Homo sapiens: one gene and its partners. The protein of the gene in region 2 purifies or fractionates together with the protein of the main gene of each other region. This does not show direct contact. Each region holds a gene or a part of one and is shown on either strand. Other genes may lie near its edges.

Region 1 (7,026 bases), on a different chromosome or scaffold from region 2:
GCCCCCACTTCCGCCCTGGTCTGCCTCCTGGCTTTGCTGCCTCCAGCGACTTGTCCTGACGGGAAGGACCCTCCCCCCCCCCAACTGTGGGGAGGACCCTGATGGTACAAATTTGTGGGTGGGGGCAAAACAGCCTGCCTCTTGTGAGACCCAGAGCACCAGGGGGCCCTGTCCCCTCCCTAGGTCCAGGCCAGGTGGCCACCAAGCTATGGGTTCTAGGGGCCCCATCTAGCAGAGCTAGGAGCTGCAGGGCCCAGTTCTACCCCTTCCTTCATCTGGCACAAGTGCAAGACTGGGAATGCTTGGTCCTGCAGGGGAGAAGGCAGGGCCCTCAGCTCCCTCCCTCCCTCCCCATGGGAGTCTCCACAAATGCATGCCTCAGCCAGGACACCTCTCCTGTGCTGTAACCAATCACACCTTCATTTTTCTAAAGCTTTATTTATTTTATAAAATGCATAGAATAAATTATACTAGTAACATTTTAAAAATTAACATCTTTGTATTCAGCAGTCCTGGGTCAGGAGGCAGGAGGAGGGTGGTGGGGACGGGATGGCTCACTGGGCAGCTAACCCGTGTAGGCCACTTCCTCCTCGTCACTGCCATCGGGGACCGCGTCTGTCCCAAAGTAGCGGTCGCCAAAGTTCCCTGGAAAAAGGGGGGGGGGGGTCCAGTGTGGTGGGGCCTCCCAGGGCCACCCACCCTGCCCTCATGTGCGGCTGAAGGGCCCGGGCAGCCTCACCAATGCCTGGGATGATGCGGAAAAGGTCATTGACCCGCTTGTCCACCGCCGTGGTGATGATTCTCACTCGCGGAAATGCATAGGCCACTGAGTGCACGCCCATCTCTGCCATGAGCAGCGACAGCAAAAAGATCTTGTCCTCAGGCACGTCGTGGTCCTACCGAGTGTATTGGGCAGGTAAATCCCACCTCTGCCTGAACCTGCCCCGCCTACCCAGGGCTCACTCACCAGGAGCACGCGCACTGCCATCATGGCCGCCGCGCCCGTGGACACGGTGCAGTCCATGAGGATCACGTGGTCATCGCTGATGTCCTTGGGCAGCCTCAGGTAGTGGAGCTGCGGGCAGCAGGGGTCAGGCTGCAGGTGGGGCTCCCTGCGTCCCCTTGCTGTGAGCTCCCTCTGCCCCCTACCCCCGGGCTCATCACCCCGGCTGCCCCCAGGCACCTCGGGCTCCCCGGTAAGCTGGTTGGTCTGGATGAGGATGGTGCCGATGCGCACGTCTTTGCACACAGCGCGCAGCGCGGGCTCCATGGTTTCACCGGCGCGCAGAATGGACACACCGGTGATCTGCGGGGAGGGGAGGCTAAGCGCCCACATCCCGCCCCAGCAGCCTGTCCCGCGCCCAGGTGTGCCCAGGCAGGTACCTGCTTCCCCGCATAGCACTTGCCCGCATAGTCCTGCCCCTGCGGGGTCTGTACGACGCAGTCCTGTGGGGTGCAGGGTGAGGACTCCGGTGAGCGCAGGGAGCTCGCACCGGCTCCAAGACCCACCCTCCACCTCGCGGGCTACGGGCTACGAACCTGAAAGGGCAGGAAGGAGAGCGCGTGCTCGATGAGCAGCCGCATCAGTCTCTTGGAGTAGAAGATGAACTCGTCGCGACTGGTCTCCTTGTCCCTGTGGGGCCAACAGTTGAGCGGGAGCACGCGCCCGGGGCCGCCCCGTCCCCAGGTGGGCCCTCACCTGATGATGGTGTGCATGCCCCGTACCTGCGGCGTGCTCTTCAGGACGCTCAGCGTCCGGGGCAGCGGGTGGCACTGGTGTGCCGAGGCCAGCGCAGCCCTGGGGACAAACCGATGGGGAACACTCAAGAAGGGGGTCTTTTCCCAGAGCCCTCCCTCCCCACAGGACGGCTGTGCGTCACTGTGAGGGGAACACACGGGCCAGGCACAGCACGAGGTGCAGAGCGGGCCTGACTTCTGCCTGGGGCTGAGCTGGGGGGAGACGTCGCCCTACCTGAGCTGTCAGGCAAAGGCGAAAGATGGCGGCGAACAACGGGGCAAGCTCACCATCAGGCAGAAAGCTAGCGGGGTAGGCTGTGAGGGCCCCTCCCAGTGCGGGACCCCTCCTGCGCTAAGAGGAAGCAGAAGTGGGCCGGGCACAGGGCGGGCTCACACGTGCTGATAGGTGTCATACCCCAGAATGGGTAGCTTGTCCCCAGCCTCTCCCCGGGGGAACTAAAGCTTTGTGGGGTCAGGCCCCGCCCTGGCTCCTCCCCGAGGTGGTGCGCGGCCCCTCAAGAGAGGGGGGTGGGGGGCAAAGCTGGCTCAGTGTCTCTTGGCTGTCCCGTCCCGCCCCGCTGCCCAAGCCTGGGGATGGCCGGGGCAGCAGCAGGTCTAGGAGCGGGCAGGAAAAGGGCGGGGTGGAGGCAAGAAAGAGGTGGGACAGGGAGGAGGCAAAGCCGGAAAGGGGCATGACAGGGGCAGGGAATGGGGCGGGGCAGGAAAGGGGGTGATGCAGGGGCAGGAAGAGGAAAGCGACAGGCCACAGAATTGGGTGTGGCAGGGGAAGGAAAGAGGCAGGGCACGGAATTGGGTGTGGCAGGGCAGAAAAGAGGCGTGACAGCGGCAGGGAAAGGGGCGGGGCCGGGAATGGGGTGTGGCAGGGCAGAAAAGAGGCGTGACAGCGGCAGGGAAAGGGGCGGGGCCGGGAATGGGGTGTGGCAGGGCAGAAAAGAGGCGTGACAGCGGCAGGGAAAGGGGCGGGGCCGGGAATGGGGTGTGGCAGGGCAGAAAAGAGGCGTGACAGCGGCAGGGAAAGGGGCGGGGCCGGGAATGGGGTGTGGCAGGGCAGAAAAGAGGCGTGACAGCGGCAGGGAAAGGGGCGGGGCCGGGAATGGGGTGTGGCAGGGCAGAAAAGAGGCGTGACAGCGGCAGGGAAAGGGGCGGGGCCGGAAATGGGGTGTGGCAGGGCAGAAAAGAGGCGTGACAGCGGCAGGGAAAGGGGCGGGGCAGGAGCAGGAAAGAGGGCCTAGCGGGAGCAGCGGGGCAAGGGGCTACGGGAAGGCGGGTCACACAGCAGCACCACGGAGCACACTGCTCACATATCCCAACGTAGCTTCCTCTGCTTGCCAGGTGAAGAGCATGTTCAGGGAGGGAACAAGGCAGGAAACGGGGGTTTACAGAGAGAAGGAAGAGAACAAAGAGAAGGCTGCTTAGTTGGGGAGCAGGGCGTTCCCCGCAGGCCTGAGGAGGAGTGTGGGCGGTCAGGCCCCCAGCCCTGCCTGACCCTCCCTCCTGCCCCCGACCAAGGCTTCCTGGGGCTGAAGGAAGTGAGTGCAGCCACAGGCCAACACTTCCTTGGCTGACCAGACGACGGAAAATGTGTCTGGCTGCGTTCAGGTGTTTTTCCAAGTTTGAAACCCTGGAAAGTTTTTCCTCTCAGAACAAAAGCTTCAGGAGGAACCTGACGGGACAAGACCTGCGGGTTCCTAGGCCGAGGAGAGGGCCAAGCGGAGACTCATGCAGGCACCGGAAGCTGGACGGCTGGTGGACGGGCCCTGGAGGCATTTCCAACATTTGGCAAACTCTTTGGAGGGCTCTGAATGTGAGGGCTCTCCCTCCAGGTGGCTCAGTCAGGAGCCTCCCAACCCACAGAAGGCAGGGAGAAGGGCAGGTCCCTTGTGGCTGACCCCCCTGCATGCCTGCCCTTGGGGAGGGACAGTGGGATGCGGCCCCGGCCCAGCCCAAGCTTCTTGCTGCAGTTGCCCAGTTCCTGCTGGCAGAGCTGTGCGGGCTGCGAGGACAGAGCTGGGGCAAGCAGGACCCGGGTGGGTGGGAGGACAGGCGCGAGGCCCTCCACCTGCAACCAGGGAAAGCTGACTGGTCCGTGAGGCTGGGCACAGGAGGTACAGCAGGCTCCCTGGCTGCTGGGACATGTCTGTAGTCACTGCCCCAGAGGCCTGGCAGTGCTGGCTCAGGAGGACAGCTGTGCTCTCTGGGGTCAAATCCCATAGACAGACTCAGGAGTCAGGGGAGCCTCCAGCAAAGTCTGGCCAGGACAGGGTCAGGACTCCGTGACGCTGGGCAAGCTACTTCACGTCTCTGTGCCTCAGTGTCCTCATCTGCCAGCAAGGGGAGGCAGAAGCAGGGCTGGGACCACTCCACACCACCCCTTCTGTGACTGGGGAAGAGCCAGCTGCCTGGCTGGATCACAGCCCAGACCCCAGAGCTCCTTGGAGGTGTTGGAAGTGCCTCCATCTGTGCAGACAGCTGTGCAAGTCTTACCTGACGCTGAGTTCACGCTGTGGCAGCAACACAGGAAGACACAAGGGAACGGTGGCGCGTCAGTGACCAGGGCAGGCGGCCAGGCCACCCCCACCCAGGAATGGACATGCTGCAGGCCCGCGGGGACACAGCCAGCCATGGGGGGTGGCAAGCTTCTAATGCCTGTAACCTGGGGACCACCTGGGCCAGACCTGCAGTTCTGCGTTGGGGCAATCAGAGCCAGGACCCTGGGCTCTGTTCTGCAGGCCTCAGGCCTTCAACATCCTGGTAGGGAGTGTGTTCAGAGCCACTCAGGCTCCAAGGCCCAGCCATAGAATGCCTCAGGGAGCAGGGGACCTCTGGTGGGGGTGTCGCTCCTGGGGTGACCCCCTGAGAAAGAGAGGAGCCTGGCCTGGCGTGGGACTCAGCAGTGAAACCCCACAATCCTGGGCCAGCAGGTCATGCCTGTCTTCCCAAAAGCTCAGGCTGGGTGTGCTGAGCGGGCTGCACCCTCGGCTGGGTCCTGAGCACCTGTACCCCCACCCCAGCTTCCTCAGGGAACCCAGGCCCTGCACAGCACAACGGGATGGGGTCTGGGCTGGACAATCTGACTGGCCAAGCAGGCTCAGGACACTCAGGGCTGGCACCTGGCAGGGGACAGTGAACGCAGGGGGATGAGGTGACCAGGCCACTGGGGGTGGTGGCAGCGGAGAAGTGGGTAGAGGGGCTGGGGGCTAGGCCGTGGGGACGTGGGACCCCGCTCACCTCCTCCAGCTGGCTGTGCACGTGCTGCACAATCAGGTCGATGGCCACCGTGTTGCCGCTCCCTGGGGCGGGATGGGGGGGCGGGTGACCGGGGGCTGGGCCGTTGGCCTGCCCGACACCCACCCAACAGGCAGCCCAGCAGGCTCACCTCTGGGGACCACGATGTCTGCCAGGCGCATGGTGGGCTGGATGTACTGGTCGAAGGAGGGCTTGACAAACTTGTTGTACTGCTTGATGACACCCTCGATGTCCCGGCCGCGCTCACTGATGTCCCGGCGCAGCCGCCGTACCAGGCGGATGTCGGAGTCTGTGTCCACAAAGATCTTCATGTCCAGGAGCTGGTGGAGACAGCGGGCCAGTGAGTGGCCAGATGCCAGCAGTGGGCATGGAGACACTGGGACCAGCCCCTGCACTGAGGCCGCCTGGTCCGTGGGCCTGGCCAGAGCCACTTCCCCAGGGCACCCTGGCAGGTGGGGAGGAGTGGGGAGGTGGGGGTGTCTGCACCTGGTCCGTGGGCCTGGCCCGAGCCACTTCCCCAGGGCACCCTGGCAGGTGGGAAGGAGTGGGGAGGTGGGGGTGTCTGGGGATGCGGTGCTGCCCGTCAGGGGCTTAGGTGAAGAGGCATGGCATGGTGGCTGGCTAAGGAATCAGGCAGGAATGGGGCTGGGCACATGTGATCTCCTTACTTTGCTTGGGGTAACTTGCACCAACACACTGGGGAATGGGGGACGTGGCGAGTTTAGGGTCTGTCCCCATGCTCAGCACACAGTAGTTGGCCCGTGAAGAGGCCTTGTGGAGGCTGGGGGCTGCTATGTGCCGGATGATGGAGTCCTCTGGGCCTGTACAAGGGGCAGGACCTGGGCCCTGGGATCAGGCCAACCTGAGTCACACTCAGCTGTGTCCTGAAGGCCCCCTTGAGCTACAGCAAAATCTCTCAAACACACCAGCCCTGGGTCCTCACCTGTCCGTCAGGACCACGGCAAGGGACGAGAACGCCAAGGACACTCCAGGTATGCGCACAGGCCTCAGCCGGTGGAGAGGAACCACTGCCTCAGGCAGCCACGCTCTGCCTTTTGGGGCCGGCAGATGGACCCAGCTGTGGCATGCCTGGGGTTGGGGTTGGGGTAGGGAGTGGCTGGCCTAGGCCTATACAGTGTGGAGGCCTTGGGGACAGGGCAGGAGGACGCACACCTCATGGACAGGGCGGCCAGGGCTGAGATACCAGCGGGGTGGGTATTCCCGGCGGGTGCTTACCTCCAACAGTGTCTTGTCAGCAAAGGCCATGATGCCCTCAAAGATGATGACGTTTGCACCATACAGTGTTTTCTGTGAAGAAACCCAGGAGTTGCGGAGCCTGGCTCATGTGCCTGCAGCCCCCCGAGGCCCCCTCTGCAGGGCCCTGGCCTACCCAGTCCTTCTTCCGGCTGTGCGTGGTGAAGTCATAAATGGGCACCTTGACACTCTTCCCCTGCTTCAGCTTCTTGAGGGTGGAAATGATGAGGTCGAAGTCAAAGGCATCTGGGTGGTCGAAGTTGAAGTTGTTGTGTGCGGCCTGTTCCTGCTGCTGCTCAGTCAGCACCTGGTGGGGGAGGCTGTGGAGCAGCTGTGGGCACAGTAGGGCCCTCACCCAATGCCAGCGGACAGGGGCTCTAGGCCTCCCAGGAGCAGCCACGCTGGGGCTGAGACCAGGGACCTACTTTTGCAGGGGGTCCAGGGTCAGGGAGAGGACAAAGGGGTCCTCGGGGGAGCTGGGCGGGGGCCCACCTTGTAGAAGGAGTCCATGGACAGCAAGACCACCCAGGGCACATCCAGGGCCTCGATGATCATTCTGGCCACAGTGGTCTTCCCAGAGGCACTGCCGCCTCCCAAGCCTGCCGGCGGGAGTGGAGACCCTCTGTGAGGAACAGGCAGGCTGCCGGCACAGATAGGTCCCAGAGGTGCCCATCCCGCTGCCGCTGCCTGCGGTTGCCCGGCTTCCTTCTCCTGCTCCACAGGCACTGGAGGGGAGCCGGAGGCAGGCGTCCGGCAGCAGGTCCCACC
Region 2 (7,026 bases):
ATTCTAGTGGTGGGTGACATAAATGGGGAAATTTTCTTAAGGTTGAGAGTGTCATAAAAAGTGTTGGCAAGGAAAACAGAACTAAGGTCATCTTTTATAGGGTCGTCTAAGGACAGTTGCCTTAATGTGAAGACTCCTATAGTCCCTGTGGAGGACCTGCCCTACACACTCAGCATGGTCGCCACCATAGATTCCCAGCATGGCATTGAGAAGGTCCAATCCAACTGCCCCTTGAGTCCTACCGAGTACCTAGGAGAGGACAAGACTTCTGCTCAGGTAGTTAATGAGAGAATACTGCTATTGTCAGTACCTCTGTTGCTTGAGTCTTGACTTGGTCCCCAACCAGTTCTTCCCAAGTGGTAACCCAGAGGGGGTCCCACATGCTCCTTGCATATCGTCATTTAATCTCCAGAGCCTTCTCTCCAGCCTCACCTCTGTTCCTAGTCATGCTGTCTTATGGAGGAGGACTGCGCCCTAACCTCAGCCCCAAGAAGCAAGAAGTTATGATTCTAATGTGGCTCCTTTACCTGTCCTCCACTCAGGTTTCCCTGGCTGCTGGACACAAGTTTGATCGGGACGTGGAACTCCTGATTTACTACAATGAGGTGCATACCCCCAGCGTGGTTTTGGAGATGGGGATGCCTAACATGAAGCCAGGTATTTTCTTTCTTCCTTTGTAGTCATCCCCTAAGGGGCAACTCCCTGTCTTGGAATTACTGTCGAATTACTCTCTTTTCTTTCCTTCCCTCCAGGGGTGGTTAATACATGTGAAACACTGAAATAGTTTACACTATGTCATGCAAAAATGGTTAGGTTTAATGACTGTCATGTGATATGTCTTGTAGGCAAATTTAAGTAGATCAGTAGATAATTGGGCAAAAGCCAGGAACAGATAATTTACAAGAGAAAACATGGCCAGTTTATAAACATGTGGCAATGATCAGTCTTGACAGACATCCAAATAATCATGTGACATTTTCACCTTTCAAATTATCAACGATTTCCAAATCTGATGCCTCATGCTTTAAAAGGTTTTCTTAAGGTTGTGAGTGTGCTAAAAAGTGAACTAACCTTTCGAGGATAAATTTGGCCATATGTGTTAAATCAATGTTAACTTTGGTAATTTCACTTTTAGAAATCTTGCCTAAGGAAGTAAATCCATATATAAGTAAAAATATGCACTGAGATGTCCCCCACCATTTTAATAATATCGAGTATTAGTAAGCAATCAAAATGTCTCTTATTGGCTAAATTTGCTATGCTAGGTATACTTCATGAGTTAATATGCAGCTACTAAAATAGTGTATATTGACAGATTGAAGTAATTGGACAAATGACCTCCAAAGAATGTTACGTAAAAGAAAAGTAAGTTATAGACAGATTACCACTATAAAATACTCTGTGCTTTAGGAAAAACATTTTAAAACACAGGAAGAATGCAAGTAGTCATTGTGATTAGATTGACTAAGTTTAATTCTTAATTAAGAAAGTTCTTAATTTCTTTTTTATCTAATACATAATTTCTATTGATTGATTCATCACAGCTACATGCAGTCTCAACTGAAGTTTTTTTCTCTTTTCGAGATATAATATATGTAACAAAATTGACCATTTTAACTGTTTTTAAGTGTACAGTTCTGTGGTCTTCAGGACATTCACCTTGTACAACCATCACCACCCTTCATCTCCAAAACTTTTTTGTTTTGCCCTAGCTTCTTAATTTCTAAGACTAAGTTTAGCTTCTTAATAACTTTAGTTTCTTAGTTTCTTTTAATGTTTATTACTTTTGAAATTTTCCTTAATGTACATGCACTCTTTCTTGGAATTTAAATTGGTGTAACCCATGTCAGTTTGCTGTGTTCTTGGGGCCTTCCTGGGCTGCCATGCTTCTGAGTTTCGGTGACACAGGACTGGAGTGCTATTGCCACTTCTGAAGCATTTACACATGGTGGAATGGACATGTCCTTGGTGACAATCATATTCAAAGTGGGACGGCTTGGCTTAGGCTCTTGTTTTTACAATTATAGCTGTTGTCAAGAAAATTCCCTGTAGTTGTTTTTCTACAGAGTACCCTACTCTCTCATTGTTAATGTTTGCTTCCAAAGTAGCTTCATACTTGAGCTCACAAATTGAACTTTTTAGTTTTCCCTCACTTGTTCAACCACTCTTCCTCAGGGCAAGCTCTCCATGCTAAGGTCATTCAAGGGGCTCCCAGCTTCCACCAGATTTGCTGTAACCATCTCCTCTTCCACGAAGCTCCATGCTCTGTCTTTGTACGTTAGTTATCTGCTTTTTCCTTTCCTTATGGTGACTATTTCCTTGGGTGTCCATGAAATATTCCCATAACAGTGACCTACGTGTCAGTTAAGATTATTTCAAAGGACTGTTTTCACCAGAGAAAGTTCCATAATGTTGGATCTCAAAAGGTAAGGATTGAGATCTCAGTCCCTGTTTTTCTAAGAAGTTCCCCTGGCCCCTATGCAGATTTTCTCATCTAGTCCCCATGACCAGGTCTGAAGGCCAAGGGGGGACATCAGGGACAGTCTTTACAGTCTTGTGAATCCCTTCCAGCAGGACTGCTCAAGTCTTGCTTCCCAGGTCGTATATTTAGTCAAGATGACTTGCTGTTCTCATCCACACAAGGAAGCGAATGACAGCTTTAAGCGGCAGCTTGTCTCACTGAAACCATTCAGAGTTCTGCCAAATGAAACCTACAGATATATGACAAAAACACAGTATGTTATTTGTTTTACAGACTTAGAACAGATGTACTTACGATATTAAGAACATGTTTTTCTAAAATTAAATTTATAATTTAATTTAAAAATTGTATAAAAATAAAATTTACAAATAATTTTATAATATTGGTTATTATGGGTTTAATCTGAGTTGAGCCCTAAACTGAGTTCCTTAAGTACATTATATTACTTAACTCTTACAATCAAGCTTGTTCAACTCATGGTCTGTGGGCTGCATGTGGCCCAGGACAGCTTTGAATGCAGACCAACACAAATTTGTAAACTTTCTTAAAACATTATGAAATTATTTTGTGATTTTTTTTTTAGCTCATCAGCTATTGTTAGTGTTAATGTATTTTATGTGTGGCCCAAGACAATTCTTCTTCTTATATGACCCTGGGAAGCCAAAAGATTGGATACCCCGGCTTAAAATAATCTTGACGTAGGTGTTACTACCTTGACTTTTCAGAGGAAGACATGAGGCTAGCAAGCAGAGGAGCTAAAGTTTGAAATGCCTCATTTGAAAACAAAGAAGCTGAGACTCATGGAGGTGAAAATAATTTGAGCCAGGCTAAAATTATAGTAGATAATCCACATATAACGCTTACAATTCATCTGGCATTGTTGTAAACAGGTTAAATATGTTACCCCATATCATACTCATGCCACCCTTTCTGACTCCTCAATATAGCACCAGCTCCATTTAAACCAGCTGTCTCTGAGAATGGAAAGGAATCTTGCTCATCACAAAAGCTCCTCCTCCATCGTATATCCAGACATCTGGATTGTGTAAATGTTATTTTTTGAACTAGTGTCCTATCATATATTTGATGGGCAACACCCATCTTATTTAGAAGCCAGTTTGGTGTCTGGCATATCCTATGGAGAAGAAATTAAACTGAGCCAGATTCTATTGTCATACCAAATCCCAGGACTACTGAGAATATAAATCTATGATCCTGGAACTGCTTCTTAAAAATGGGATAAAGGAATTTAATTATATAGCCTCTTATATTTTCTGTAAAGCTGGAGTTAACCTAGCCATTCTCATTGCATCTCTATCTCAATACTAGCATTTCAATTCCTGTATCAGCCCTCACTTGCTTCTAAAAATAGTCACAGCTGTGGCTTTGACAACATGGCCAGATAGACTGGGCTCCTGTGGTCACCCCCACACCATTGTTTGGATGATGATAATAGAATCCAACATGTGTCTCAGTGTTTCCCTTTCTTCTGGGGACTATCAGCGAGTTATTCACACCCAAAGCAGACAGACTTACCTTGGTGGGTATAATACTTATACTCTCAACACTTGTAAATTGTCAACCTAAAAATTGTCCATGTGAGTATCACTTTTTTCAAAGCTGTAATTAAAGACTTAAGGCCCATGTGATACATTTCCCATTTATTTGATTTGAAGAAAAGGTTTGATTCTGCAGATAAACTTGTCTGATTCTTTTGGCAAATGCTGGAACATTTTAACCTAATGTATTTCATTCATTTGCCTAGCTGCCAGGAAACTAGTAATCAGTGACAATGTTTTAACTATTGCTTGTGTCTACTAACTTCTATCCTCTTTCTTCTCTTTCATATCTGTTCTGTTTTTGTCTGTCTTATATATTTATAACTCACCTTGACCCCATTGCAAGCAGTTATGGTACATGAATCATCACAGTGTTTTAGATTTGAGTTTTCCTAGCTCTTAATTGAATTCACTACCATTGATTCTTAGGTACTAGGATTCTTGAGTTCCTTTTTGTCTTACAGTGGCTTTATCCTTTCTGAACAGGTCATTTGATGGGAGATCCATCTGCAATGGTGAGTTTCTATCCAAATATCCCAGAAGATCAACCATCAAATACCTGTGGAGAGTTTATCTTTCTCATGGACCGCTCGGGAAGTATGCAGAGCCCCATGAGTAGCCAGGATACATCTCAGCTGCGAATACAGGCAGCCAAGGTAAAGCTAGTTTCTTTCCTCTTCTGGGTCACATGCTCAAGTGAGGATGAATCTGAGGGGTTAAATAAGGGTCTATCTGGAGCCTGAGAGAGCAGCACGACCACCCTGAGGCTAGCCTTGGAATGTAAGAAGGCACAAGGTGGGGGATGGCCCACATCCTCAAGAGTCGATTGACAGGGCCCATGTGTTTTGGCGAGCCTCTCTCACTCTGTCTCTTCATACTCTCTTACCTTCAGGAAACACTGATTTTGCTGCTGAAGAGTTTACCTATAGGCTGTTATTTCAACATCTATGGATTTGGCTCTTCCTATGAGGCATGCTTTCCGTAAGTTTCTGGAAAGACAATAGGGAGTACAAAACGAGACTTTAAAGAAAGGGACTAAATTGTTAAAGGGGTTACTGCGGAGTTGACTTTGGCATTGGGGGTTTCGGATAAGACTCTCTTTTAATGGGGGTTTCTCAATTCAGGGACTCTATACTGGGCAAGGTTAAGTAACCCTCATGTAACTGGGTGTGTTTGTTTTTCTCAGGGAGAGTGTGAAGTACACTCAGCAAACAATGGAGGAGGCTCTGGGGAGAGTGAAGCTTATGCAGGCCGACCTAGGGGGCACTGAAATCTTGGCACCACTCCAGAACATTTACAGGGGACCCTCCATCCCAGGCCACCCCCTACAGGTAAGAAGTGGAACAGAGCTAACAGAAGAGACAGGAAGTGTGAAATCTCTAAGAATCTATGCCCCTGAGCTTCATGCAGTATGTTGAAATATAGTTTGCAATTCACAGTCTTCTATCATATAGTAAACAGAAAAAAAAAAGATGATGCATTTGTCTTCTTCCTTAACTCCATGCGATGGACACTGGAAGGCCTTTTATGGAGTGCCACAATAACTGAGATGCAGCTAGGAGGGGAGGTGCTAAAAATTCCCAGGGTTCTGAACAGATCATGTGAGAATGTGGTGCCAGCGACTGAAACATTAGGGATTTCATGCCTCTTTGAAGAGGCACCAGAGCCTCTGCAATGAAATAGGTGGATTTTTCAAGGGCAAATTCTGGTTTCTTAAAAAGAACTTGACAAAGACCTGATGAACATTTTCTTTCTTTGTATAGCTTTTTGTCTTTACAGATGGAGAAGTTACAGACACGTTTAGTGTAATTAAAGAAGTTAGGATCAACAGACAGAAACACAGGTAGGAAGAAAATGTGATTTCCGGGTGATTGGTGCTGAGTAGTGACACACAGACTCTAGTGCTACATGATGCCGGTGTTGACCTTCCTTCAAGAGGACCAAATGATTTCAGAATTTAGTTTTAGCAGCTGAAAATTTATTTCTCCCTGTAAACGTTAAAAACAGTTTTCCAAATAACATCAACAACACAGCAAAACCATTGTTTCTTATTCTTTCTAAACTACAACGAACACAAGAATTGAATAGTAAGATGTTAATTTTTTTTACTATAAACATTTTTAGAGAAGTAAAACATGCTGAAAACTACACAAATTATAAGCATACAACTGGACTCATTATCACAGTGAATGCACTGTGTGATCGCCACATAGGTAAAAACTGGAATGGTCGTAGGCCTCTCCATCTGTACCCTTTTCCATCATGTCCTATTCCCTGTCACTACACACTAAAACTTTCCTGACTTACAATACCATGGGTTATTTATGCTTGTTTTTGAATGAAAATAAATAAGTTATACAGTATGCTTTTGTTTCTGTGTATATTATTTCTTTCCTTTCAGCAGTGTGTTGAGAGATTCATATACATTTTGAGTATAGCCATAGTTCATTTTCATTGATGTATAGTATTCCACAAAATGACTATGCCATAATTTATATATTGATTTTAATGCTGTTGGACTTCGATTTGGCTGTTAAAAATGATGCTGCTGTGAACAGTTTTGTATTCTTGTACATGTATTGTTTTGCACACACGTGTATATGCATACATACCTATTTATATACGTAGATTTTTCTCTGAGTAGACAGAATTGTGGAGTTTCTAGGGAATGCCAAACATTTTTCCAAATGATTGTACTAATTTAATTCATTAAATTGTAGGAGTGTTCCAATCGCCTAATTTCCTATCCAAAACATGATATTGTTTGTCTTTAAATTTTAGTTTTGTGTGTGTGTCGTGGTGTCTTATGGTTTTTTTTTTTTTTCTTGAGATGGAGTCTCGCTCTTTCGCCCAGGCCGGACTGCAGTGGCGCTATCTCGGCTCCCTGCCATCTCCGCCTCCTGGGTTCACGCCATTCTCCCGCCTCAGCCTCCCAAGTAGCTGGGACTGCAGGTGCCCACCACCGCGCCCAGCTAATTTTTTTGT
Region 3 (7,026 bases), on a different chromosome or scaffold from region 2:
GGTTACCTGCATAATTTCTCAAAAATTATTCTAGGTTTTAACATTTTAATAGCACATTTTACGTGCTCTACTATACAATTTATAATATGTTGAAGGAGCTATATAAAATGTATGTATGTATATATATTTCTACTTAGATCTATTTTTAAGGAACCTGAGCACATGTTTTACTATTTCAAGTAATTAACAGTGTATGTTTTTTTGTGATGCAGTGTCAGTCACATATATTGATGCTCTTTTAGCTGCTGTGTCTTTTTTCAGGAATGAATCTTCAATTAAAGCACTAAGCACAGAAGTAAATGTAACAAAAGTAGCAAAGCCAGAAAGCATGGAAAACACAAGAAAATGAGACATATGAGAGAACACAGTGGAGATTATAAGAAAACACAAATAAACAGGGCAATTCAAGAGGAACCAAATATGAAAGTTAATATCATGGTCCATCTTGCCCAGTACAAACAGCCCTCAACTTTAAAATGTTATCCAATCATTTTGAAATCTACATAGTGAACTCCTACTATGAACCCAATACTATTCCGAGAACAGAAGACGCAGAGGTGAAGCAGACAGCTAGCCCTAGAAAAGCTTGACAATGCTGAGGCAGGCACATAAAAGAACTACAACAATCTAACAGTTGTTACAATACAGGTGTGTACCAAGAGCTTGGAAACCAACAAAGCACTACCCACTGGGAAGCAGAGAGGACAGCAAGAAAAGACCTAACAGATGAGATCCTGTACTAGGTTTGTCTGTCTTCTCTGGCTTAATCTTGAGATTCTCCATAAAAAAAAGCGGGGTGGCTGGGAGGGGGAGGCTGGGAGAAGGCCATTTCAGGCAAAAGCATGGAGCAATGAAAAAAAGCACAAAACATCAGGGATCATCAAGGAGTTCAAGAGTGGCTAAAGCTCCCAACTGGTATACAGGAATCAACGTAAAAGAAGAGGATAAAAAGGAAGGTGATAAAGGGCCCTGCATACAATGTGAAAAAGTTTGGTCTTTAGCTTAGCTTAGGTTCTAAATAGTAGTTTACAAAATCCTAGAAGTTCTGGAAGGTATTCTAGGAATTCATGTTGCCTTCTATTAATAAACAAGCAAGGAAGCAAATAAAATATTTTTTCTTTTAAAAAAGAACAAATTGATTATTTGTATATCAAATGAGAGGTACAGCTTAGAAGAAATGAAATGATTGTACACAAGATTCAGGTCACTTACATGATTAAACACCAAGTACTCAATATGGTTTTGATTGTTTCACAGTTTAAAATTGTTTTCTTCCTTAGGTTTAATGTCCACCAAAGTTGAACTACTGGTCAAAATTAGAAAGTATAAAAACCATGGATTTTGGAGGGAAAAAAAAGGAAAAGGAAAATATTGATAAATTCTCCTCAAAATGATCTTCACCAAATTCTTAATATACATTAATCTAAGACAAGTTCTTTTACAGCAACTTCAAAAACCATAGGTGATGGAAGGCAAAAAGTGTATTTTGCTTGGCATTTATTGGCAATTCGCACCTACAATGTGCTATATGCCGAGAAGCAATTGCAAAAACTAGCCTGAAAAATTCTCTTACCGTATTTAAAAACTACTGCAAAAATTTAAAAACAATCAAATTTGATGTTTCAAGTGAAATATTAAAGAATTCCAAGCTAGTTTTGCCTGTTTTGATGCTATACGATGTGAACATATTTAAATGTATTTTAATGTAGATTTGGAATTAAAAACTCAACAGGTCATTTAAAATCCCAGCACTTGGGGAGGCTGAGAAGGATCGCTTGAGCCTAGGAGTTTGAGACCAGCCTGGGCAATATAGTAAGACACCATGTCTACAAAAAGTTTTTTAAAAAATTAGCTGAGTGAGTGGTGGCACAAGCCTGTATATCCCAGCTATTGAGGAGGCTGAGGTGGGAGGATCACTTAAGCCTGGGAGGCAGAGTTGCAGTGAGCCAAGATTGCACCACTGCACTCCAGCCTGCCTACAAGGTAGAGCACAGTGGCTCACGCCTGTAATCCCAACACTTTGGGAGAACAAGATGGGAGGATCCCCTGAGCCCAGTTCAAGTCCAGTCTGGGAAACATGGCGAGACCCCGTTTCAACAAAAAATTAAAAAATTAGCCAGGTATGGTGGTGCATGCCTATAGTCCCAGCTATTCAGGAGGCTGAAGTGAGATTACGTGAGCCCGGGAGGTCGAGGCTATAGTGAGCCGAGATTGTGCCACTGTAATCCAGACTGGGCAACAGAGCAAGACCCTTTCTTAAAATAAATAAATAATAAATAAAATTTTTAAAAAAATAGTGACCATTTTTAAAAAAGATAATAGAAAGTTACTGAAGGACTGCAAAAGAGGGTAATACTATCATATGTGTTTGTGAAAATCACTCTCTTAACTAAGAATAGATTGGTGGGAACCAAACTTGAGATAAGGAGGAAAGACAACATAAGCCTTCCCAGGCAGAGGACAACAGGGCCTTAACATGGGCAGGGGTACCAGTACTTGTAAGACTGAAGGGAGCAATCAAGATGCTTAGGAGTAGTCTACCCCAAGTTCAACTTTCTTCTGCTCCTCCTTTTACAGCTTCTACTGTTTCTTAGTTTCTGAACTCCCAAAGTTCCGTTATTTTTCCCCACGATGGTTTCTATGAGAGTAGCATTAAGCACCACTGCACACAGCAGGAGTGGAAAAGGAAGTGCTACTTACAGGTAGTTTAGTGGTGAAGATCTGCCCATATCTTATGTATGGCTTACCTCTCCATTAGATTGTGAGTTATCTGGGAACACTGTTCATACCCCCACTACTCCAATAACACCTGACGCATAGGAAGTAATCAGTAAATACTGAATGAATGACACTAAGGGATGAAATGAGCACAGATATTGATGCTGCCCTTTATTTTAATCTCAAAAGTGAGATAAGTGACCACCACTCTACCCCACTGAAAACTTCCCATTTTCCCTTAACCTATCAAATCTAGCTTTATTTTATTTTATTTTATTTCATTTTACTTTATTTCTTTAGGCTAGTCAAGTGAAGCAGTGAGAGTGGAGAAGGAACACAGAAATTTGTAACTGGTTGTGATCAATTAGTTGTAAACACAAATCAAGCTTTTTTTAAGGTCAATTTCAAACAATATCAACACTTACAGTGTTAACAGGAAGAGATCACTTCTAATATGGATAAAGGAAGGTAGCATGGAAGAAATAATTTAGACTGGGAGAAGAGAAAGCAGATTCCAGGCAGAAAAACAGTGTGAACAAAAAGCTAAGATGAAATGTTCCAAGGGTAATCACAGCACTGGCTGGAATGTGGGACACATAAAGAGGAGTAGGGAAGAGCATGGAAAACTGGGCCGTGTCTAGAGAGCTAAAGATTTTAAACACCAAGCTATGTAAATAGTTTGCCTCTTAAGGTCATTTTAAACAGGAAGATTCAAGAAGGCACTTAATCGAATTATCAGGCAGCAATTATGTAAGACGGGTAGAAGACAGTATGCATTTGTGTGTATGTACCCCTTAATTATCTTCCCTTTAGCATTTACAGTTTCAAGATTTTATAACATAACTTCTCCAGCAGGCCTCAGCAAGGCTGAGGCACAAGAATCACTTGAATCTGGGAGGCATTTATAAAATCATTTATAATACAAACAATATAGTATGTCAAATTTAAAATAATGCACCTAAGACTGCTTATATGCTTTTCATTAAAAACACATTTAGAATCTTTGAAACATCACGAAGCAGTTTTAGTATCTCTAATACAAGTCTAAACATAAGTTCAGATTTGAAAGTCATCTCTGAGACTGTGATCCAATCAAAAGTTGTATCTGAACAAGTTGTATCTGAAAAAGGTCATTCTAGACTTGGTCAACTAGGGGAGAAGCTCCAGCTATCTCACAACTGCTGTAAACAACCTTGCCAACTGATACAAAGAAAACAGAACTCTCAAAAAATGCTAAAGGCCCTAGCTTCCCAAATCATCTGCTCTCGTGACTCCGGTAGACTTTAAAAAAAAGTCAAGACAAATTTTATGACTAATAAACAAATAGACGGGACTTTGGTAACACATGGTAATTATATTTACTCATAACATTGGAAAAAGAAAATGGAGAAGTTTCTTTCTAGTCTTACCTGCTAGGGTTTTTAAGGAATCTAGTGTTGGAAGAATAGGGGGTGATCTTCTCTGGAGAAAAAAGATGACCATCATTGTAAGGGAGAAATTTGTAATCCATGCACCAGGAATACTACTTGTTAGTGAATGTGCTCGAGCCCAGCACCGTACACTGAACACCAAGGCTCTCACTCTTGAGTCTAGGGCACCATATATATAAAGGAGTTCGGAACTTGTCAAGGCAATCCTTCAAAAAATAAAAATAAGAAAAATGTTCAAATCCCCAAATTATAAACCAAGGGTAAAATTAAACTCAAACCAAGAAACACATCTAAATATCCTACTATATCTGAATGTATTCAGAACATCATTAGGTAATCAAAAGCATTATGAATTTGCAATATAAAATTTAATATGAATGGCTGAATATCAAATACATTCATTCCCATTAAAACATCCTCTTAAAATTGATAATTAAAATGTAAGCCGGGCTCGGTGGCTCATGCCTGTAATCCTAGCACTCTGGGAGGCCGAGGTGGGCGGATCACTTGAGGCCAGGAGTTCAAGGACAACGAGGTGAAACCCCTTCTCTACTAAAAATACAATAATTCAGCTGGGCGTGGTGGCGTGCCCCCGTAATCCCAGCTACTCAGGAGGCTGAGGCATGAGAATTGCTTGAACCCGGGAGGCAGAGGTTGCAGTGAGCTGAGACCATACCAGTGTACTCCAGTCTGGGAGACAGAGCAAGACTCCGTTTCAAAAAAAAAAAAAAAAAAAAAAGAAAGAAAATGTAGATCTAGGACCAGGCGTAGTGGCTCATGCCTGTAATCCCAGCCCTTTGGAAGGCTGAGGCGGGCGGATCACCTGAGGTCAGGATTTGAGACCAGCCTGGCCAACATGGTGAAACCCTGTCTTAAACAAAAATACAAAAATTAGCTGGGCGTGGTGGCGCATGCCTGTAATTCTAGCTACTTGGGGGGCTGAGGCAGGAGAGTCACTTGAACCCGGGAGGCGGAGGCTGCAGTCAGCCGAGAAAGCGTTATTGCACTCCAGCCTGGGTGTCAGAGCAAGACCCTGCCTCAAAAAAAAAAAAAAAAAAAAAAGAAATAAAGAAAATGTAGATCTAGAACTCAGAATATGTATGTATTTATTTATTTGAGACGGAGTCTCGCTCTGTCGCCCAGGCTAGAGCGCAATGGCGCGATCTTGGCTCACTGCAAGCTCCGACTCCTGGGTTCACGCCATTCTCCTGCCTCAGCCTCCCAAGTAGCTGGGACTACAGGCGCCCACCACCACGCCCGGCTAATTTTTTTGTATTTTTAGTAGAAATGGGGTTTCACCGTGTTAGCCAGGATGGTCTCAATCTCCTGACCTCGTGATCCACTCGCCTCGGCCTCCCAAAATGCTGGGATTACAGGCGTGAGCCACTGTGCCCAGCCTAGAACTTAGAATTTTTAAATCAAAGTTTCTAAACATGATTTAAATAATATGTAAAACACACAAAGGCGCTTTATAATTATTAATAAATGGCTGGGTACAGTAGCTCACACCTGTGATCTCAGAACTTTGGGAAGCTGAGGTGGGCAGATAGCTTGAGCCGAGGAGTTCAAGACCAGCCTGGGAAACATGACAAGACACTGTCTCTACAAAAAATACAAAAGTTAGCTGGGTGTGGTGTCGCACACCTGTAGGCCCAGCTACTTGGGTGGCTGACGTGGGAGGATCACCTGAGCCCAGGGAGGTAGAGGCTGCAGTGTGCCAAAATTAAGCCACTGGGCTTCAGTCTTGGCGACAGAGTAAGGCATCATCTCAAACACACACACATATATATATATAAAATCGATAAAGACAAAAAGGCATTTATTGGCTGGGCACTGTGGCTCACGCCTGTAGTCCCAGCATTTCAAAGCAGGAGGATGACTTGAGCCCAGGAGTTTGAGACCACCCTAGGTAACATAGTAAGACCCTGTCTTTATAAAAATAAAAAATGTATATATAAAAGAAAAACAAAATTTTAAAAATTTAATTAAAAAAATAGTCAGGCGTGGTGGCATGCACCTGTAATCCTAGCTACTCAGGAGGTTGAGAAAGGAGGATTGTTTGGGCCCAAGAGTTCGAGGCTACAGTGAGCTATGATCACACTACTGCACTTCAGCCTGGGCAACAGAGAGAGACACTGTCTCTAAAAAAGTAAAAATAGAATTAAATTAAATTAAAAATATTAAGCTCCTACTGATCAAAACGTGTCTTGTAATTTCTCCAAGAACCAACAGATGGCATAAAAAAATAATTTAACAGCATCAAGTTAAAACTGTCTCTAAAACTGTCTTTAAAAAGAATAGAAGAAACAAGGCCAGGCGTGGCGGCTCACACCTGTAATCCAGCACTTGGGAGGCCGAGGTGGGCAGATCACCTGAGGTCCGGAGTTCAAGACCAGCCTGGCCAACATGATGAAACCCTGTCTCTACAAAAATTAGCCAGCATGATCACATGTGCCTGTCCCAGCTCGGAAGGCTGAGGCAGGAGAATTGATTGAAGCCAGGAGGCGGAGGTTGCATTGCAGTGAGCCAAGATTGCGGCACTGCACTCTAGCCTACGCGACAGAGCAAGACTATGTCTCAAAAAAAAAAAAAGAAAAAGAAAAAGAAGAAACAGCAACTTAGAAATTCATTGTGATTAAGTGTTTTATGTATGAAAATGAAGCTAAATTAAGCTAAAAATAAATATCAAAAAGTATAAGGTATCTTGATATAAAGAAAAAAACATAATTACAAAGATAAATGTAATTTTGTCCTATTTTACATACTACAAAGAAAATATAATAATGATAGAAAGTACAGTATTATATTTTTATACTAAAATTTGTCAAGAAATCACAGACTTTACTCCATGAGTTTTACTTGAGAGAAAGTCGCAAGT
Region 4 (7,026 bases), on a different chromosome or scaffold from region 2:
TCAGAATACAACCTTGATTTTTCCCATTTAGACTATTCTAAATAACACTGACTCACAGTAATGTCAAAATCAAGTTGTGTACATATGGATAACTCATTGTTGATAAAGACACAAAGGCAATGTAGTGGATAAAGGATAGCCTTTTCGATATATCCAGGTGCTGAACAACTGGATATCCACATGCAAAAAAATGAACTTGAATCCATACCTTACACCATATACACATATTAACTCAAAATGGATCTTAGACCTAAATGTAAACCTAAAATTCTATCTGATCAAAGACTTGTATTCAAAATGTTTAAAGAAGTCTCAAAATTTAACAGTAAGAACACAAACTAATAAAAAATAGGCAATTATTCGAACAGACATATCATCAAACAAGATACATGGATAGCTAATAAGAACATGAAAATATGGGAAATAAAAATTAAAACCACAATGAGATACTGCCACATGCCTATTAGAGTAGCTAAAATTAAGGCCAGGTATGGTGGCTCATGCCTATAATCCCAGTGCTTTGGGAGGCCGAAGAAGGCAGATCACTTGAGCCCAGGGGTTCAAGACAAGCCTGGGGAACACAGTAAAACCAACAAAAACTATAAAAATTAGCTAGGTGTGGTGGTGCATGCCAGTAGTCTCAACTACTAGGGAGTGTGAAGTGTGAGGATCACTTGGTTCCAGGAGGCAGGGGTTGCAATGAGCCAAGTGAGCCAAGATCACAGTACTGTACCCAGCCTGGGCAACAGAATGAAACCCTATCTCCAGGAAAAAAGAATGGCTAAAATTAAAAGGACTGACCATACCAAGGGTTCACAAGGATGTGAAGAAACTGGAACTCTCATAACTGCTGATGGGAATATAAAATGGTATGACCACTTCATGAAACAGTTTAGAAATTTCTTAAAAAGTTGGCCAGGCACGGTGGCTCACGCCTGTAATCCTAACACTTTGTGAGGCACAGATGGGTGGATCACTTGACGTCAGGAGCTACAGAGCAGCCTGACCAACGTGGTGAAACCCCATCTCTACTAAAAATACAAAAATTAGCCAGGTGTGGTGGCACATTCCTGTAATCCTAGCTACTTGGGAGGCTGAGGCAGGAGAATCACTTGAACCCGAGAGGCAGAGGTTGCAGTGAGCTGAGATTGCGCCACTGCACTCCAGCCTGGGCAAGAGTGACTCCGTCTCAAAAAAAAAAAAAAAAAAAAAAGTTAAAACATACACACCTACAAAGCAATCTGGTCATTCTGCTCCTAGTATTCACCCAAGAGAAATGAAAACATACATCCATACAAAGATGTAGACACAAATGTTCACAGTATCTGTCTTTGTAATAGCCCAGAACTAGCAATAACCCAAATATACATAAACAGCCAATAACCAATTTGTGGTATATCCATGCACAATTACTCAGAAATAAAAAGAAACAAACTATTAATACATGCAACAACATAGAGGAATCTCAAAATAATTGTCATAAGTGAAAGAAGCCAGACAAAATAAGTATACATCCTGTATGAATCCATTTATATAAACTATAGAAAATGCAAACTAATCTATAGTAACAAAAATCAGACAGGTGGTTGGTTGGGGAGGTGAGTCATGTAGGGGTGGGAAAGAGGGATAACAAAAGTCCATGAGAAAACTTTTTGGGAAAGTGAGCATGTTTAAAAAGTTTTGGATAAAGTGAATATGGGGTTGGTGTGTATGTTCACTGTCTTGATTCTGGTGAAAGTTTCATGGAGGTACATATGTCAAAATGTATCAAAGTGTACCATTTAGGCTGGGCGTGGTCGCTCACGCCTATAATCCCAGGACTCTGGGAGGCCGAGGCAGGTGAGTAACTTGAGGTCAGGAGTTCGAGACCAGCCTGGCCAACATGGTAAAATCCTGTCCCTACTAAAAATACAAAAAATTAGCTGGGTGTGGTGGCAGGCGCCTGTCATCCCAATTACTTGGGAGGCTGAGGCAGGATAATTGCTCGAACCCAGGAGGTGAAGGTTGCAGTGGGCCAAGGTCACACCACTGCACTCCAGCCTGGGCAACAGAGTGAGATTCTGTCTCAAAAAAAAAAAAAAAAAAAGTACCATTTAAATATATGCAATTTGTTATGTCAAGTAAACGTCAATAAAGCTGTTTTTAAAAGGTTGTATATAAATATTATACACCAGAATTCCTATAATTAGCTGAAAATTAATCCCATTCATTCCTAACAACAAATATTTATCTAGCACCTACCATATGCCAGGCACCCTGCTAGAGTTCTAGGGATACAATGGTAAGCAAATTGACAATATTCCTAACCTCATGAAGTAGTCTGCCAAGGAAGCAGAGATTAATAAAAGATTTAGACAGACACATATAATACAAACTGTAACAAGTGCTATAAAGGAAAGGTACACAAGGAGAAGACAGACTATAATAGGAAAATCAAATCTACTCTGACAGAAAAATCAGTGATGGATACCCCAAGGAAGTCACATGTAAACTGAGGAAGAAAAGGATAATAAATTGAAGATGGAACTTTGCTCAGAAGAGACACTAATAGAAGCAAAGGCTCTGAGGAAGGAGAAAGCATAAATCTTTGAAGGAAAGGGAAGAAATCCAAAAGGCCAAAATCAAAACAATGTAGACAACACTATTGGTCACCTATTTAATAACTGTTCCACTTCTCTTTCCTCATTCCTACCAGAAGTTCAATCATCTACCCTCCTCTATATAGTCACATGCTTTAGAGGAAGCTGACTCCATCCTTGATTTTAGGAAATGGATACTCTTTGTTTTGACTTAAGTCAATCATGGCAACCTCTGTCTCCCTGCCAGTGACTGGTAAAGGAATAGCATGAGTAAAAGCAGAAAAAAGCGTTATTGGATGCTCTAAACAAGAAATGGTAGTTTGGACTATGGAGGTACCAATGGATATGGAGATGTACATGAAGAAATAAGAAAGAGCAAAGTGTCCAGGATGTTCCCTAGGTTTCTTAGGTAAATAATAGTCTATCCTTTCTATACAGCCAAAAGCAGGTGAAATATTTTTTAAATATATTATTAATAATCTTATGTTACTCTTAATGTATTTCTCTAAAATTAGTAAAAATTATTTAAAGATCACACATAAACATACCTGATACTTATGTAGGATACTGGCCTCAGAAGGCCAGGCAAACTTATCAAGAATGAATCAATGAGGCTAATTAGATTTCGTCTTAGGATACAAACATTGTTTTATAGAATTCTAACATATAATTAACAATAATGGCTACAAATAACATCAATTTTGGAAAATCATTTATTTTGCCTTGCCTTCCTTAAAAAATTATTTAGGACAACAAAATGTCTCAATAAATTAAAAGTCAAACCAAGAATTTAAAAACGTCTATGGATTTTTGACCACTCTGTGCTATTTTAAAATCATTCCAGAGAAACTAGATAGAGATATATAATCAGTTATGCTAACCAAACTTATATAAATTAGGGCTTATAACAGTAATAATTAAGACTCTTATTACAGATATCAACTGACCCAGGCAAAATATAAATTACCTTGACAAGTTGATGAAGTGCCATTTCTTTCAGAAGGTGGTGTGCTTGGATAGTTGAAATGACGTGAAGTTCCTTGGTTCATGTCATTGTTTGTAAAATCCTTTGAATGGCATGCACAACAACATGACAATTGTACTTCAGCTTTTTCACTTACGCCCTCATCTGCTGGTTTCCCTAAAAATGAAAGAACATCTATTTATAATATATCTAATTAAATAAACATCAATCATTCTCTACAGCCCAGTTCACCCAGGATTGGGAGGTTTCCTAAGATAAAAGATTTTTAGGGCTAACACCAGGAAGGTACCTGGCAAACCTGGACAAGCTGGTCACTTTATCTGCAGCATCAAATTAGGACAGGAGAGAAATAAGCCAAAAACATTTGGTTGGACACAGTGGCTCACGCCTGTTATCCTAGCACTTTGGGAGGCCGAGGCAGGCACATCAATTGAAGTCAGGAGTTTGAGACCAGCCTGGCCAATATGGTAAAACCCTGTCTCTACTAAAAATACAAAAATTAGCCAGGCGTGGTAGTGCACGCCTGTAATACCACCTACTCAGGAGGCTGAGGCAGGAGAATCGCTTGAACCTGGGAGGCAGAGGTAGCAATGAGCAGAGGTCATGCCACTGCACTCCAGCCTAGGCGACAGAGCAAGACTCTGTTTCAAAAACCAAAACAAAAACATTTATAGGGAAATTATCACCCATTTATGTAATCTGTAAAAATCTAATAATCTAAGATTAATAATGTAATAAAAGTACAACTACTCAAGTATTCATTTATATTAAGATTTATCTAAAATTCAAGAATGGATTGAAACAAGGACATAAAGTATATCCTTAATTACTACTCTTTCCCTAAATGAAGAATTTGAAAGTTCAATATATTAGATAATAATCTAACACATAAGGGTTAAATCATTCCCCCAATTATACTTCTATTTCAAATAGAAACATGTTTTTTGATGTATTAATTCTGATACTTGCATCAAAATACATTTTAAGGTCAATATTCAAATCAATAAAATAGGTAATTTTAGTGCTAAATATAATACCAAATTGTAATAAGTTTACATTGTGTGCCTACATTGTATACAAATGTACAATTCATATACCCCCAAAAAAGCTAAATAATTTATTTTTAAAAATAATCAGTATTGACATTGTTTTCCCATTTGTACCATATAAATATTCCTAATTCTATTTTCCAGACATCTGCCATTAAGACCTGAAGTTAGTACCGATAAACTCATTTTTCCCAAAATTAACGTCAGTGAGAATCAAAATGAACAACCAAAAGCTTATGAAGTATTTACTGTTTTTTTTTTTTTTTGAGACAGAGTTTCGCTCCTGTTGCCCAGGCTGAAGTGCAATGGCGCGATCTCGGCTCACTGCAACCTCCACCTCCCAGGTTCAAGTGATTCTCCTGTCTCAGCCTCTCGAGTAGCTGGGATTACAGGCACACGCCACCTCACCAGGCTAATTTTGTATTTTTAGTAGAGACGGGGTTTCTCCACGTTGGTCTGGCTGGTCTCAAACTTCCAACCTCAGGTGATCCACCTGCCTTGGCCTCCCAAAGTGCTGGGATTACAGGCGTGCGCCACTGTGCCCAGCCTTAATATACTCTTATTAGTAACAAACATTTCATTTTAAAAATGTATCTATATACCTATATACACATACATACATACATACACATACCATGTTTAACCTCAATTCTCCTAATACTTTAGGTTAAAGCCATCTAATGTAACTAAAATGTATCCAATATTATATTTCTGATTCATTATGTAGTTTATATAGTCTTTCATAGAAGTAAATATTAATAGGCATTTGTTAGCAAACAAAGTAAAAATAGTTTGGCCTGGTGGCTCATGCCTATAATCCCAACTATTTAAGAGGCTGAAGCAGGAGAATCACTTGAGCCTGGGAGTTTGAGGTTACAGTGAGCTATGATCACATCACTATGCTCCATCCCAGGTGACGCCACTCAAAAAAAAAAAAAAAAAAAGGAAAAGTAGTGGGAAGTAATATAAATTCATACAAACAATATTATACTAAATTTCTGTTTATCTGGCATTTAAACAAGTAGAAAGATCAACTAGAATGTATTCTTTTTTATATATTCCATGTGCTGATGTTATGAGAAAGGAACAGGTAAGCAAATATATTAAAGGATTTCCCCCCCCAAAAAAAGCAATTAGTATGTGTTACAGCATCATGACAGCCCATCTCTTGCATCTTTTACATACAAATTATCATCTAATTATTTTTATAATAACTCTAAGCATCCAAAACTTTGTTTGTTTGTTTTCTTTCACCCAGGCTGGAGTGCACAATCACAGCTCTCTGCAACCTCGACCTCCTGGGCTCAAGCGATCCTACCACCTCAGTCTCCCAAGTAGCTGGGACTACAAGTGTACATCACCATGCCTGGCTAATTGATTGTCAATTTTTGTAGAGATGGGGTATCACCATGCTGCCCAGGCTGCCAAGTCTTTATGTACTTTCCGACTCATCAAAAGACTAAATTATGTTCAATACTATTTTAGCATTAATTAAACATATTTTGCTATATTGAAACTCTTTTGGAAGATTTATAACTTATTTCAAAGAAACATCTTTAAACAAATATTTAAGTTAGCGACAGCATGGCTGAACCAGTCTGGATAAAGAATACTGTATTATATTTTCTCAGATCCCAGTAAGTAACCTGAAGATATCAAGCAACTACTTACCACTAAGAGATTGTTGCCATGCTAAAGCAGAACAAAGTAAGGCTAAGCTTTTTCCACTTCCTGTGGGACTCTCCAACAAACAATGTTGCTTGCTGTTTAATCCTCTGAGAATCTATGAACACAGAAACCAATGAAAATAATAAACATATTAACTTTATAAAGGTCTCTCTCCATCTGAAGTTTAAATAGAACAGCAAGGAAAAGTGAGATTGCACTCCAGGGAACACAACAATAGCAGAAGGAACTCATATTTAGTTAAATCCAAACTGTATTCCTTTACACCTCTCCCTAAGATTATCTTACTAAAATATCAAGCACAAGAGAAGAAATGAAAAGAGGAATCTGTGCCAGAATTATGCAAGCATCAATGATTTCTGTAAAACCAGAATACATTACTACCTATCAATATATTTGATGAAAACTTAATGAAGGATACTGCTAGTGAGAGTACAAATTGTTACAACTACTTGGTAGAGAAATAAACAATTTCTTATAAAGTGAAGATGCCCAGCTCCAGCAAGTCCAGTTCTATGTGTACACCCAAAACCTTTCCCACATGAACACAAGGAAACATGCATAAGAAAGTTCACAGCAGCAGCCACGCTTGTAATCCCATCACTTTGGGAGGCCAAGGCAGGTGGATCATTTGAGGTCAGGAGTTCGAGACCAGCCTGGCCAACACGGTGAAAACCCGTCTCTACTAAAAATCCAAAAATTAGCTGGGCGTGGTGGCGCATCCCTG

What was found.
Region 1: the proteins of VWA5A (region 2) and UCKL1 purify together in Homo sapiens (affinity purification with mass spectrometry; 2 studies listed by BioGRID and IntAct, with this or other methods). This does not show direct contact.
Region 3: the proteins of VWA5A (region 2) and MTPAP purify together in Homo sapiens (affinity purification with mass spectrometry; 2 studies listed by BioGRID and IntAct, with this or other methods). This does not show direct contact.
Region 4: the proteins of VWA5A (region 2) and BRIP1 purify together in Homo sapiens (affinity purification with mass spectrometry; 2 studies listed by BioGRID and IntAct, with this or other methods). This does not show direct contact.

Annotation. Positions count from the first base shown.
Region 1 is NC_000020.11:63,939,411-63,946,436, forward strand, and holds the end of UCKL1 (uridine-cytidine kinase-like 1), read right to left. Parts: intron 6,858-7,026; coding exon 6,751-6,857; intron 6,590-6,750; coding exon of another isoform or gene 6,566-6,589; coding exon 6,395-6,565; intron 6,313-6,394; coding exon 6,241-6,312; intron 6,117-6,240; exon of another isoform or gene 5,673-6,116; intron 5,325-5,672; coding exon 5,135-5,324; intron 5,049-5,134; coding exon 4,987-5,048; intron 4,612-4,986; coding exon of another isoform or gene 4,456-4,611; exon of another isoform or gene 4,260-4,455; coding exon 4,243-4,259; exon of another isoform or gene 4,147-4,242; intron 3,317-4,146; exon of another isoform or gene 3,221-3,316; intron 3,083-3,220; coding exon of another isoform or gene 2,353-3,082; exon of another isoform or gene 1,799-2,352; coding exon 1,700-1,798; coding exon of another isoform or gene 1,634-1,699; coding exon 1,540-1,633; intron 1,447-1,539; coding exon 1,384-1,446; intron 1,307-1,383; coding exon 1,184-1,306; intron 1,076-1,183; coding exon 968-1,075; intron 897-967; coding exon 740-896; intron 646-739; coding exon 566-645; 3' UTR 419-565; downstream 1-418.
Region 2 is NC_000011.10:124,118,433-124,125,458, forward strand, and holds part of VWA5A (von Willebrand factor A domain-containing protein 5A), read left to right. Parts: intron 1-100; coding exon 101-276; intron 277-542; coding exon 543-657; intron 658-4,527; coding exon 4,528-4,697; intron 4,698-4,933; coding exon 4,934-5,022; intron 5,023-5,227; coding exon 5,228-5,372; intron 5,373-5,804; coding exon 5,805-5,884; coding exon of another isoform or gene 5,885-5,888; exon of another isoform or gene 5,889-6,404; intron 6,405-7,026. UniProt on the Homo sapiens protein: May play a role in tumorigenesis as a tumor suppressor. Altered expression of this protein and disruption of the molecular pathway it is involved in, may contribute directly to or modify tumorigenesis.
Region 3 is NC_000010.11:30,318,264-30,325,289, forward strand, and holds part of MTPAP (poly(A) RNA polymerase, mitochondrial precursor), read right to left. Parts: intron 4,355-7,026; coding exon 4,128-4,354; intron 1-4,127. UniProt on the Homo sapiens protein: Polymerase that creates the 3' poly(A) tail of mitochondrial transcripts. Can use all four nucleotides, but has higher activity with ATP and UTP (in vitro). Plays a role in replication-dependent histone mRNA degradation.
Region 4 is NC_000017.11:61,853,512-61,860,537, forward strand, and holds part of BRIP1 (Fanconi anemia group J protein), read right to left. Parts: intron 6,397-7,026; coding exon 6,285-6,396; intron 3,721-6,284; coding exon 3,547-3,720; intron 1-3,546. UniProt on the Homo sapiens protein: DNA-dependent ATPase and 5'-3' DNA helicase required for the maintenance of chromosomal stability. Acts late in the Fanconi anemia pathway, after FANCD2 ubiquitination.